Homo sapiens: one gene and its partners. The protein of the gene in region 3 purifies or fractionates together with the protein of the main gene of each other region. This does not show direct contact. Each region holds a gene or a part of one and is shown on either strand. Other genes may lie near its edges. The genes, in order: EPB41, ACOT1 and CA2.

Evidence for each region.
Region 1: the proteins of CA2 (region 3) and EPB41 purify together in Homo sapiens (affinity purification with mass spectrometry, with the first as the bait; one large-scale study listed by BioGRID). This does not show direct contact.
Region 2: the proteins of CA2 (region 3) and ACOT1 fractionate together in Homo sapiens (co-fractionation; one large-scale study listed by BioGRID). This does not show direct contact.

What each region holds. Positions count from the first base shown.
Region 1 is NC_000001.11:29,113,485-29,117,121, reverse strand, and holds part of EPB41 (protein 4.1), read right to left. Parts: intron 1,424-3,637; coding exon 1,325-1,423; 3' UTR 1,319-1,324; intron 304-1,318; 3' UTR 1-303. UniProt on the Homo sapiens protein: Protein 4.1 is a major structural element of the erythrocyte membrane skeleton. It plays a key role in regulating membrane physical properties of mechanical stability and deformability by stabilizing spectrin-actin interaction. Recruits DLG1 to membranes.
Region 2 is NC_000014.9:73,535,573-73,539,323, reverse strand, and holds the start of ACOT1 (acyl-coenzyme A thioesterase 1), read right to left. Parts: upstream 2,182-3,751; 5' UTR 1,903-2,181; coding exon 1,446-1,902; intron 1-1,445. UniProt on the Homo sapiens protein: Catalyzes the hydrolysis of acyl-CoAs into free fatty acids and coenzyme A (CoASH), regulating their respective intracellular levels. More active towards saturated and unsaturated long chain fatty acyl-CoAs (C12-C20).
Region 3 is NC_000008.11:85,470,490-85,474,140, forward strand, and holds part of CA2 (carbonic anhydrase 2), read left to right. Parts: intron 1-3,203; coding exon 3,204-3,322; intron 3,323-3,651. UniProt on the Homo sapiens protein: Catalyzes the reversible hydration of carbon dioxide. Can also hydrate cyanamide to urea. Stimulates the chloride-bicarbonate exchange activity of SLC26A6. Essential for bone resorption and osteoclast differentiation.

The DNA of each region.
Region 1 (3,637 bases), on a different chromosome or scaffold from region 3:
AGAGAGGCTAGGCTGAAGGGGTTACAAACCACCCAATTAAAAAAACCCCAAAACTCTTAAAACAGTCTATAGAGTGAAAAGTTGAACAATTCTGATATCCTAATATAGAAAAAGCTCTTCAAAAGGATCAATGAGATCTAGAAGAATCTCTTGGTATAAACTCCCAATAGAAACTGAAATTAATTTTCTGGTGATTTAGAATAATCTTGAAAGTCTGAAGTCTGACTATGGCAGGTTAGCTTCTTTATCATTTTGCTGGTTTCTCTTGGATGGGAGAAGGGCAGAGTTGGGGTAGGTTAGTTCCTAGAGAAAACAAAGAAGCAAAATTTAAAATCCTGCAAAGGAAAAAGCTTCCTAGTCCCATTGCCAAGTTCCTGTGGCCATCAGTGACAATGGGGATGTGAGCAGGTTTACAGGGCCTGGTCCCACCTAGTGAGATTGGTGGCTTCTTCAAGTCTTTTTAAAATTACTTTTAGGCATGAATTTATCTGGATCCCTGGTTCCCAAAAAGCAGCTTCCCTGCTCCCAGCTCTCTACTCTGGTCTCAGAGCTTCAGCCATTACCTCCCTGCTCTGCATGCCCACCCATCTCCAGACAGCCTGATCCTGCTCTTCTTGGTTTTTTCTCCTCTGGCTTTCCCAGGTTCTGGCTCAAAGATACCTGTGACTGGCCAGGCGCGGTGGCTCATGCCTGTAATCCCAGCCCAGCACTTTGGGAGGCCAAGCCAGGTGGATCATTTGAGGTCAGGAGTTCGAGACTAACCTGGCCAACATGGTGAAACCCCGTCTCTACTAAAAATACAAAAATTAGCTGGGCATGGTGGCACATGCCTGTAGTCCCACCTTCTTGGGAGGCTAAGGCAGAATTCCTTGAACCCGGGAGGCGGAGGTTGCAGTGAGCTAAGATCATGCCACTGCACTCAAGCCTGGGTGACAGAATGAGACTCCGTCTCAAAAAAAAAAAAAAAAAAAGAGAGACCTGTGACAGCAGCAAGCAGAGCAGTAGAGAGAAGAGAGGGGGAAGGTGAAGTGGATCTCCAGCAGGATGCATGAAGACTCAGAGGGTAGCTGGGGGCTTATATCCAAGTTTGGGTCCCTCCTCTTACCCAATAATGCTGGCACTGCTACAGGCTGCTTTAGTTGGAGCCAAATACTTAATTTCCTATATCTCCCACATCAGCCTCTCGTCTGCCTTTATCAAGTCCCAGGGTGAACACCTCTTTGTGGGGATGGGCTCCCAGTGTGTCCGAGGGTCCCATCCAGAGCCCTCTCAGGCTGGGACTGTGGGCACCCTCAGCCCCAGCAGGAACGCCCAGTACCTGAGCTCACTCATCAGCAATCTCGGTCTCCTGGTGGACGACCACCTTGGTCACTGACATGTCTGGGTGCTGCTCCTTTGCCTCCTTGATGGCTTGTACAAGGACCTACAAAAGACAGAAACAAGGGCAATGAGGCAGAAAATAGCCTGATGGCGAAGGAAGGCAGTGGTCATCATTTCTCTGATGTTCTGACAGATCCAATACTCCTGTCTGCAGTACCAGGGCAGCTTTAGGCTAAGCCAAGCTGATAATTACCTTACCCACCCTATCCTGCATAGGGAGGCTTCTGGACTGATAACACAGGGACAGGGAAGGTTAGCGCTGTCTTCTAGGAACTGGAGAGGGACTTCGGGGGTCATAGCTGTATCTGTTATATGATCCTTTATTTTTTTTTTATTTTTTGTTGTTGTTGAGATGGAGTCTCGCTCCGTCACCCAGGCTGGAGTGCAATGGTGCAATCTCGGCTCACTGCAACCTCCGCCTCCCAGGTTCAAGCAGTTCTCCTGCTTCAGCCTCCTGAGTAGCTGGGATTACGGGTGTGTACCACTACGCCCAGCTAATTTTTGTATTTTTTGTAGAGATGGGGTTTCACCATGTTGGCCAGACTGGTCTCGAACTCCTGACCTCAAATGATCCACCTGGCTTGGCCTCCCAAAGTGCTGGGATGACAGGTGTGAGCCACTGCACCTGGCCTATATTATCTATTATACCTATCTATTATCTATCATTATACCTGGAGGGTCTGAGAGGATTCACTCAAGATGTGAATCTAAAGGACAAAACAACATCTGTGTTCAGCATGGGTAAGTGGCAAGTTCAGGACGGGAGAGGAAAGTAAAGAAGTGTGCAAGAAAAAGGAAGAGATGTCCTTGGCCAAAGTAGAAGAAAGGAAGGAAGAGGACAAGGGACTGTTATATGCCATGCACTAGCCTAAGTACATTACTTATTACTTAAACTCTATTAAGTTATAATTTATTAATAACTATATTGTTATTAAGATAATAACTATTATCATTACTTTTTACTTAAACATGACAACTTAGTGCATTAAGGTAATGTAATTTTTTGCATTTTATAGGTGAGGAAACTGAATTTCAGTAAAGAGCTTACTGTTTCATAGCTAGTAGGTAGTGAAACAGGGACTTTTTTTTTTTTTTTTTTTTTTTTAGACGGAGTCTCACTGCCCAGGCTGGAGTGCAGTGGTGTGATCTTGGCTCACTGAAACCTCTGCCTCCTGGGTTCAAGCGATTCTTGTGCCTCAGCCTCCCAAGTAGCTGGGGTTACAGGTGTCCGTGACCACGTCTGGCTAATTTTTGTATTTTTAGTAGAGACAGTGTTTTGCCACCTTGGCCAGGCTGGTCTCGAACTCCTGACCTCAGGTGATCCACCTTGCTCGGCCTCCCAAAGTACTGGGATTATAGGCGTGAGCCAACGCACCCAGCCGTGCAATAGGGATTTTAACTCAAGTCGATCAGACTTTCCTCTTTACCACACTGTTGTTTAGTTTCTGAGGGGGTCCCTGTTTGAGGATCTGGAGGAGCTTTGATTACTTTAGAAAAGCTAAAGAGAGCAGAGGGAAAGTCAAAAGAGCAAAAACACCATCCTCTTTGGGCTGCAGTCTCTGAATTTGCAGGCTCCCCTATGGAAAAGGACTCAGCTAGAAATGACCAGCTGACTACTCACCTGGCTCTTAAGAACCATCTCTAGAAGGGGCAAGGGAAGAAGGAAAACCCTCTTCTGGTCTCCTGGCTCTATGAATGGCATTCTTAGAACTACCACCTCTGTGGGCCCCTGACCATCCTCCCTGATCCTGTTTGCCCAACCCATCTGCTCACACCTCAGGCCCAGCTCAAGTCTTCTCTTTGTGACTCTGCCTCCGCCCACCTCTCTATGAAACCTGCTGCTCCACACTGCTTCTCCTTAACAGTTCTTAAAGTGCCTCCCTCGCCAGCCAGAGTGTACCATAGCTTACCCCTTCCATGCACTCTCAGTAACTAGAAAACCTGAGGGACACTGGAGCATCTCTCTGAGCTACCAAGTGTGTTTGGCCCTTATGACCCTGGAAGAAACCTGTGATCATCCTTATTTTACAGATGGTAAAACTAGAGCTCAGGTTGGTAATATAAGTTGCTCAAGGACATATAACCAATTAGGTCGCAGAGTCAGGATTCAGCCCAAGTCTGTCTCACTCCAAACCTCAAACACCTTTCACCGCATTGCTTTTGCTGTCTAGTGCAGACTGAGCACGTAGCAGGGGCTCAGATCACACCAGACTGAGTGGGTGGGTGCAGGCTTCTAAAGCAGCGGGACCCACTGAGC
Region 2 (3,751 bases), on a different chromosome or scaffold from region 3:
CAATCAGTACCTGGTCCTGCCATGCACAGGGAGGTGGCTGCTCTCCTGGAATGGTAACAGGACGGAGATCATAGCCAGCCAGCAGGGAGCTAGGCAGCAGGAACGAACAGGCCCTGCAGGGGGCAGCAGCTGCAGCTGGAGCAATGGTGGGCGGGCAGGCACCAAAACCTCTGCACTGTCACAGGCCCAGCCACCTGGCACCTCCTAGCTGCCATGGAAATACAGTGAGAAAACCAGTTGGAATTCTTTTTATTAAAAAAAAAAGTGACTTCCTGGTCCATACATAAATAAGAACATTGAAACTACTTGAAAATTTTTTGTTGTTGTTGTTTGTTTTTTGTTTTTGTTTTTGTTTTAGATGGAGTTTCACTCTTGTCCCCCAGGCTGGAGTACAATGGCGTGATCTCGGCTCACTGCAACCTCTGCCTCCAGGGTTCCAGCGATTCTCCTGCCTCAGACTCCCGAGTAGGTGGGACTACAGGTGTGCACCACCTCACCTGGCTAATTTTTGTATTTTTAGTAGAGACGGGGTTTCACCATGTTGGCCAGGCTGGTCTCGAACTCTTGATCCGCCTGCCTCGGCCTCCCAAAGTGCTAGGATTACAGGTGTTAGCCACCGCGTCCGGCCTGTTTTTTTTGTTTTGTTTTGTTTGTTTTTAATATTATGTGTCTTTTCTCTTTCCTTACAATGCCTTTTTTTTTTTTTTTTTTTGAGACGGAGTCTCACTCTATTGCCCAGGCTGGAGTGCGTGGCACGATCTTGGCTCACTGCAAACTCCGCCTCCTGGGTTCATGCCATTCTTCTGCCTCAGCGTCCCGAGTAGCTGGGACGACAGGCGCCCGCTACCACGCCCGGCTAATTTTTTGTATTTTTAGTAGAGACGAGTTTTCACCGTGTTAGCCAGGATGGCCTTGATCTCCTGACGTCGTGATCCGCCCGCCTCGGCTTCTCAAAGTGCTGGGATTACAGGCGTGAGCCAGCGCGCCCAGCCCTTACAATGTCTTTTAACTGAGCACTAGGTTTGAGGGACCTCTCAGTTTTGGAGCGGCAGGGGCAATTCCCCAACCAACTTTCCATTCCATTCCTGTCTCCTTACACTAACCTCCGGAATGTTGGAAGCTACATCCTTTCTCCGTATGAAAAGCGCAGGGACGAAAAAAAATAAAAATAAAAAAATAAGTGTAACTCCCCTCAAAGGGCCGGGCGCAGTGGCTCACCCTGCAATCCTAGCTCTTGGGGAGGCAGAGGCGGGAGGATAGCTTGGGTCCAGGAGTTCAAGACCTACCTGGGCAACATAGCCCGGGGTGGTGGTGGTGGGGCGGGAGGAGGGACACACACACAAGCGAAAAGAGCGGGGCGGGGCGAAGGGGACACACACACACACACAGTGGAAAGCGCAGGAACAGGGATGGGCAGAGGGGAACAATTAGCGGAGGTGAGTCACCTGGCGGCAGGAAGAGCGTGCCTCGCACCCGGCCCGCGCGCACCGGCTCGCGCCGCACCCCGGGCGGGAGGAAGTAGCGCTCGTGCCGCACCCGGCACAGCAGCCGCCCGGGGTCGGGGTCGTGGCCATCCAGCACCTCCAGCTCCACGGCCAAGGGCGTTCGCACGTCGCGCTTCACCAGCCGCACCAAGGGTTTCTCGGGCTCCAAGGCCCAGAGCAGCCCCATGGGCTCAAGCCCCGCGAAGCTGCCGCCCAGCGCGGGCGCGCGCTCCAGGTCCAGCTCGCCAAGGGTGTCGGCGCGGTAGCGCGCGTGGGCCTGGAAAAGCGCGCCCTTCTCGTCGCGCAGGGACGCGCGCAGCGTGACCGGCTGCTCCGGGGCTAGGCCGCGCACGGCGATTCGCACCGGTTCGTCCCAGCAGCAGCGGCCCGCGGGCTCCAGGATCAGCGTCGCCGCCATCCGAGCAGGAACCCAAATAATCCGGCCAAACTGCCTCAGCTGTGGAGACCCCTGCAACTCTGCCCAACTCTTCCTCTCGGGCTGCCGTCGCAGGCTAAACGCCCACTAGGGCAGAGCTGTCTGCTAATGTGAGCGGGGAAGGCCAGAGTCCAGCCGATCAGCCAGACCAAATATAGACACACTGGAACTTGCTTAAAGTCTCCTGTGTTGAAACCTCCACTTTATGTTGGAAAGCAACTTCCTAGGTTTGCTTTTCAGAAGCTTGCTGGCTCGCGGAATGGGCTGGGCCAGGACTGGTTCGTCCCGGCTACTCGGGAGGCTGAGGCAGGAGAATGGCGTGATCCCGGGGGGTGGAGCTTGCAGTTGGCCAAGATCATGCCACTGCACTACAGCCTGGGCGACAGAGCGAAAGTCCGTCTCAGAAAAAAAAAAAAACAACAACAACCAGGCAGCTAGCAGTCTCCAGGCTCCAAACTCCTGATGGCGAAGAGGAATGCAGGACTGGAGTTGGTTTTGATCACTTTGTTGAATAATTCACACTCATTACTAATCTTAGGGCTTTTCTTTCAAAATCTGCACCATGGTGTTTTGCTTTCGTGTTCTCTGTATATGCCTATCCTCCACATCACTCCCACATCGAAGGGTGCTGGCTTCTTACTAGCTGTGTGACCTCTGAGCTTTATTCCTTACAGGTGTAAAAATAGCCAAATGAGGTAATAGTTATTAATTTCTCGAACTCCTGACTTTGTGATCCGCCCGCCTCGGCCTCCCAAAGTGCTGGGATTTACAGGCGATGAGCCACCGCGCCCGGCCAATAGTTATTATTTTCTTATACTGGTTTCTCATTTTTGTCCCAGTCAGGCAAGTGTTACCTCTCATCTTTTTTTTTTTTTTTTTTTTTTTTTAAAGAGACAGGGTCTCACTACGTTGCCAGTCTGGAGTACAGCGGCGGTTTACCATCACTGCGCACTTACAAGCCTCAAACTCCTGGGCTAAAGCCATCTTCCTGCCTCAGCCTCTCAAACACCTCAAGGGACTACCGGCGCTCCCCATGCATTGGGCTTTTTTCTACTTTTTCATAGGCTATTGGTTCCAACCAGAGGTGGTTTTTTTTTTTCATCAAACTTAAGCTTTAGGCCCCTCCCAAGCCCTTGTACCTGATTTCATAATTTCCTATCTTGGTAATTAGAGAAACCTATAAATGCGTAAGCTTCAAACTCACAAAACCTGTGTTTGCCTCTGCTCCTAATAAGGCTGTCCTCAAGGTAAGCCTTTTTATCTCTTTCCAAATGCTCTCATGTCCCATGTCCCATGTCATTATCATACAACTCCCTGTTAGTTGTAATTACCTTTGTATAGGTTCTGTGGCACACATCAAGTATATTCTGTGCATAGAAGTCTCAGGAACTAAAGAAGGTAAATAATAGTAGCTAATTGTTAATACTTACAAGAACCGTAGTAGTAAATTAAGGCCCAGAGAATTTAACTGATTTTCTGAAGATCATACAGCTGGGAAGTGGAAGTTGGGTGAGGTGGCTCACGCCTATAATCCCAGTTTACTTGGAGGCTGAGGTGGCAGGGTTTCTTAAGGCCAGGAGTTTCAGACCAACCTGGATAAGACCCTGTCTCTAACAAGAAAAAGGGGCCAGGCGCGGTGGCTCGCGCCTGTAATCCCAGCACTTTGGGAGGCCGAGGCGGGTGGATCACGAGGTCAGCAGATCGACACCATCCTGGCTAACACAGTGAAACTCCGTCTCTACTAAAAAAAAACCAAAAATACAAAAAATTCGCCGGGCGTGGTGGCAGGCGCCTGTAGTCCCAGCTACTCGGGAGGCTGGGGCAGGAGAAT
Region 3 (3,651 bases):
TTACGGTCTTTAGTCTGTTACTCCAGTGCATCTTAATTTAGTTTAAGTGATTAGGGAGAAAAAATTAAAAAATATTAAATGTTCAGCTTTTAATTTGTATAAGTAATGTGATTCATTTCAATATTACTGGATTTCTTATTTTTCTCAAAAAGTAATTTATATAATTTCCTCAAATAATATGTATAGGAAGAAAGATTATTCTATAACATTATACTTAGTGCTTGTTTTGTGTTATATACAGAGTATGTATAATTGATGACAATCATGAAAATTAAAATTGGCTGGAGCTCTTGGTGTTGAGATTTGAATTTAAATTAAATTGGGGGGGGTCTTGAAAAAAACATTAGAGTAGAAAACTGTATTTATGTCTCCATCCCTCACAGAACCCATTTCTGGGGTACAATGAATCATTGACTCTTTAAAGCACCACTGCCATGGCTGGATTTTACAGAGAAAAAATAGGCAGTTAGCAATTTCTGCTATTTTTTAAAATTATTTTTACATTAGAAAATAGATTTCATTTTAAACTGCAACAGTTTAGAAAATGGCATGTAGTCATTTAAATAAATAAGTAGATCCAGAATATAGCATAAAGTCCCTAACTTAAACCAAGATATTATGTTTTATGTTTCTCAAATAAAAAGTTTGAGTTTATGGCAATTTATTATAACAATGTTTTTGAAGGACTTCATTGACTAAACTCCATGCTAAGAGTTTGCCAGAAATGCTGCCTTCTGTAGCAAGTAAACTTTAAGGATTTAATAACATTTTCTAGTTACAGTGGGTTTCTAATCTTCATAGGAACAAGTTTTATTTTAACAGGGGCTAAAACAGGTATCTGGTGATAACAGATTAGCACTGAATGTGTTTAATCATTGAGCCCAGAGCACTTTATCTTTTTTTTTTTTTAGTGTTAGCTGTTAGCAAGTATTGTTTACTAAAGGTTTGCACACACTCTTGCCTAATTCTAAATGTTTTTAGAAACAAATTAAGATGAAACTTTAAGATTTGTTAGAGAAAGAATAAGAAACAGCAATAAACTTTATTCTCCTTAAAATGTAAGATCCTGCTATGATTCTTCACTGGGGGGAAAGAAGATACATTTAGAAAATTGGTTATCTCAGATTCTTAGTATGGTTTTAGTTAGTTAGTTTTACCACTTGGTAGAGTTAATGATTTGACAAATGACATTTGCTTCTTATTATCAGCCAGTTGGTTGCTAGCTTTAAAGAGTTATTATAAAGGATTTTTTTCAGTATTAATTTATTTCATAAACATATATTTAATTTTTATATATTATTATGAAAAAAGGGAATTATTTCATTCTTTTTTAAAAAAGTCTAGAATTAGAGGCTAATATTTCCTTATAGAATTGTCAGGAAACAAACTGTTGTAATAAGTTGTTTTTGTGTTCCAAGAGATGTGACTTTGTCAGAATACATCCAAATTCATATTTCTTAGCAGATCTTTAACATAACACCATTTATAATTCTTTCTGTTTTCATTCTTCCTTTTTTCTCCTGGCCTATTGTAAAGCAGATCTGGCAGCCAGAGGTTGTATCAGGAACCACAGAAAGACCCCACTGCTTAAATATCTTCAAAGCAGTCTTTCACTTTGAATAGATGAATGGATATTGCTACCATGTAAGGATATTTAGGTGAAGCTCATGAACAAATCTTGTTGTACAGAAGTTATCCCTTTGTTCTGCAATGCCAAAGTAAATTTGGGCTCATTATTTTATGGAATTATAAAGTAAAGCTAATAAAATACACTTATAGCAACAAATGTTTAATTCCCAGTACTAGAAAAATAAAATTTAAATTGTAGAACTAAACTACTTTTAAAAGCTTTTGAATATATTGGTTAAATCCCATTAATACATACAAAGTTAGGCACAGAGTTTCTTGGTGGATGGAAGAAAGACTGATTTCACACTATTTTAATCCTCTGTCAAGACGCAACTTATTAATTATATACAGATAGTTTGTAGCCGATGGATGTGATTTTTGTTACTGATTTTGCTTAATGCAGTTACATTAATGCCAGAATAGTAGAATCGTGGAATAGTTATCAAGTTAGAATTTTAAGTTCTTGGAGATAATAGAGCACATTACACTGCATATAGAAGATGATCCATAAATTATTAGTGAAATAGTAAATGATTTAGTGTGTCCACAGATGAGTAAATTAAGGTCAAAGAGGTTTAATAAAAATTTTCGGCCGGGCACGGTGGCTCATGCCTGTAATCCCGGCACTTTAGGAGGCCGAGGTGGATGGATTACTCAAGCTCAGGAGTTCCAGACCAGCCTGGGAAACAAGGCAAGACTCTGCCTCTACTAAAAATACAAAAATTAACTGGACATGGTGGTGCACACCTGTAATCCCAGCTACTCGGGAGGCTGAGGCACGAGAATCGCTTGAACTCTGCTTGAGGCGGAAGTTGCAGTGAGCCGAGATCGCACCACCGCACTCCAGCCTGGGCAACAGAGCAAAGCTCTGTTTCAAAATAATAATAATAATAATAAATAAATAAATAAATAAATAAATAATAAAAAAAATTAAGGGAACAAAGCTAGCCAGCAGCAGTGAGAGTCTAAATTCTAAAGAATTTGGGAAGCCTATATAAGGATAATTGGATTTTGCAATGTTAAGATCAATGGAATACTGATTTCACAAATTCGGGTGTCTAAGAACTGGTATCAGAGGTTAGCAAAGCAGGCTGTATGGCAGCAATCGGGCCTTGGTGGAAGAGAGGGTCTCACGTTTGCAAGTGTGTGTAGCAGACCAATTTATTGGCCAGTAGCTGCATGGGCACTTCCTAAATGTTTCACAGATTATTAGTTTCACTTAGAATTTTCTCTCTCTGGACCTGAATCTATGACTCTAAAACAAACCCAGAAAAAGGAATCAGTATGCTCAGAAAGAAAGATGTGAAAAACATCCATTCTCCAGACAACGCATGTGAGGAATAAAAACAGGTAAAGTGATTTTGTTCAGCACCGTAGACTAAACTTGACTCTGGATTGAATTTTCAGAGTAAAATGTGATTAAAGGCAAACATTTAGTACTGTAAAACAGAATTAAGATTGTAATATTTAGGCATGTGTTTCATGTGTGTGTATGTATGTGTGTATACCTATGTATATATGTGTATGCAGATACATACATATATGTTACATATATATATATGTTTTAATTTTAGTGCTCAAGGGAGGACCCCTGGATGGCACTTACAGATTGATTCAGTTTCACTTTCACTGGGGTTCACTTGATGGACAAGGTTCAGAGCATACTGTGGATAAAAAGAAATATGCTGCAGAAGTAAGATATACTTTTTTTTTTCTTTCCAGGGAAAAATGTTTATAAGTTGATATTTAGCATTAATTTCAAAAGCTTAATTTGTAAATTCAACTCACGCCCAGTGAACCACTTCTTTTACAAAGGACCTTCACATTTGCTTTTTATAACCTTTAATTGTGACATCATACTTAACGCTGCAAAACTTTCTCTACTGTCTCCAACTCCACCATTTGCAAAAAGTAAACGGACTCAAACTGGAGGATCCTGTTTTAACAGAAATTTAGAAATAAAATGTGTGCCTTCTGTCAAAACTGTACATTTATTTGTCTTAGAGTTATTGATGAAAACAC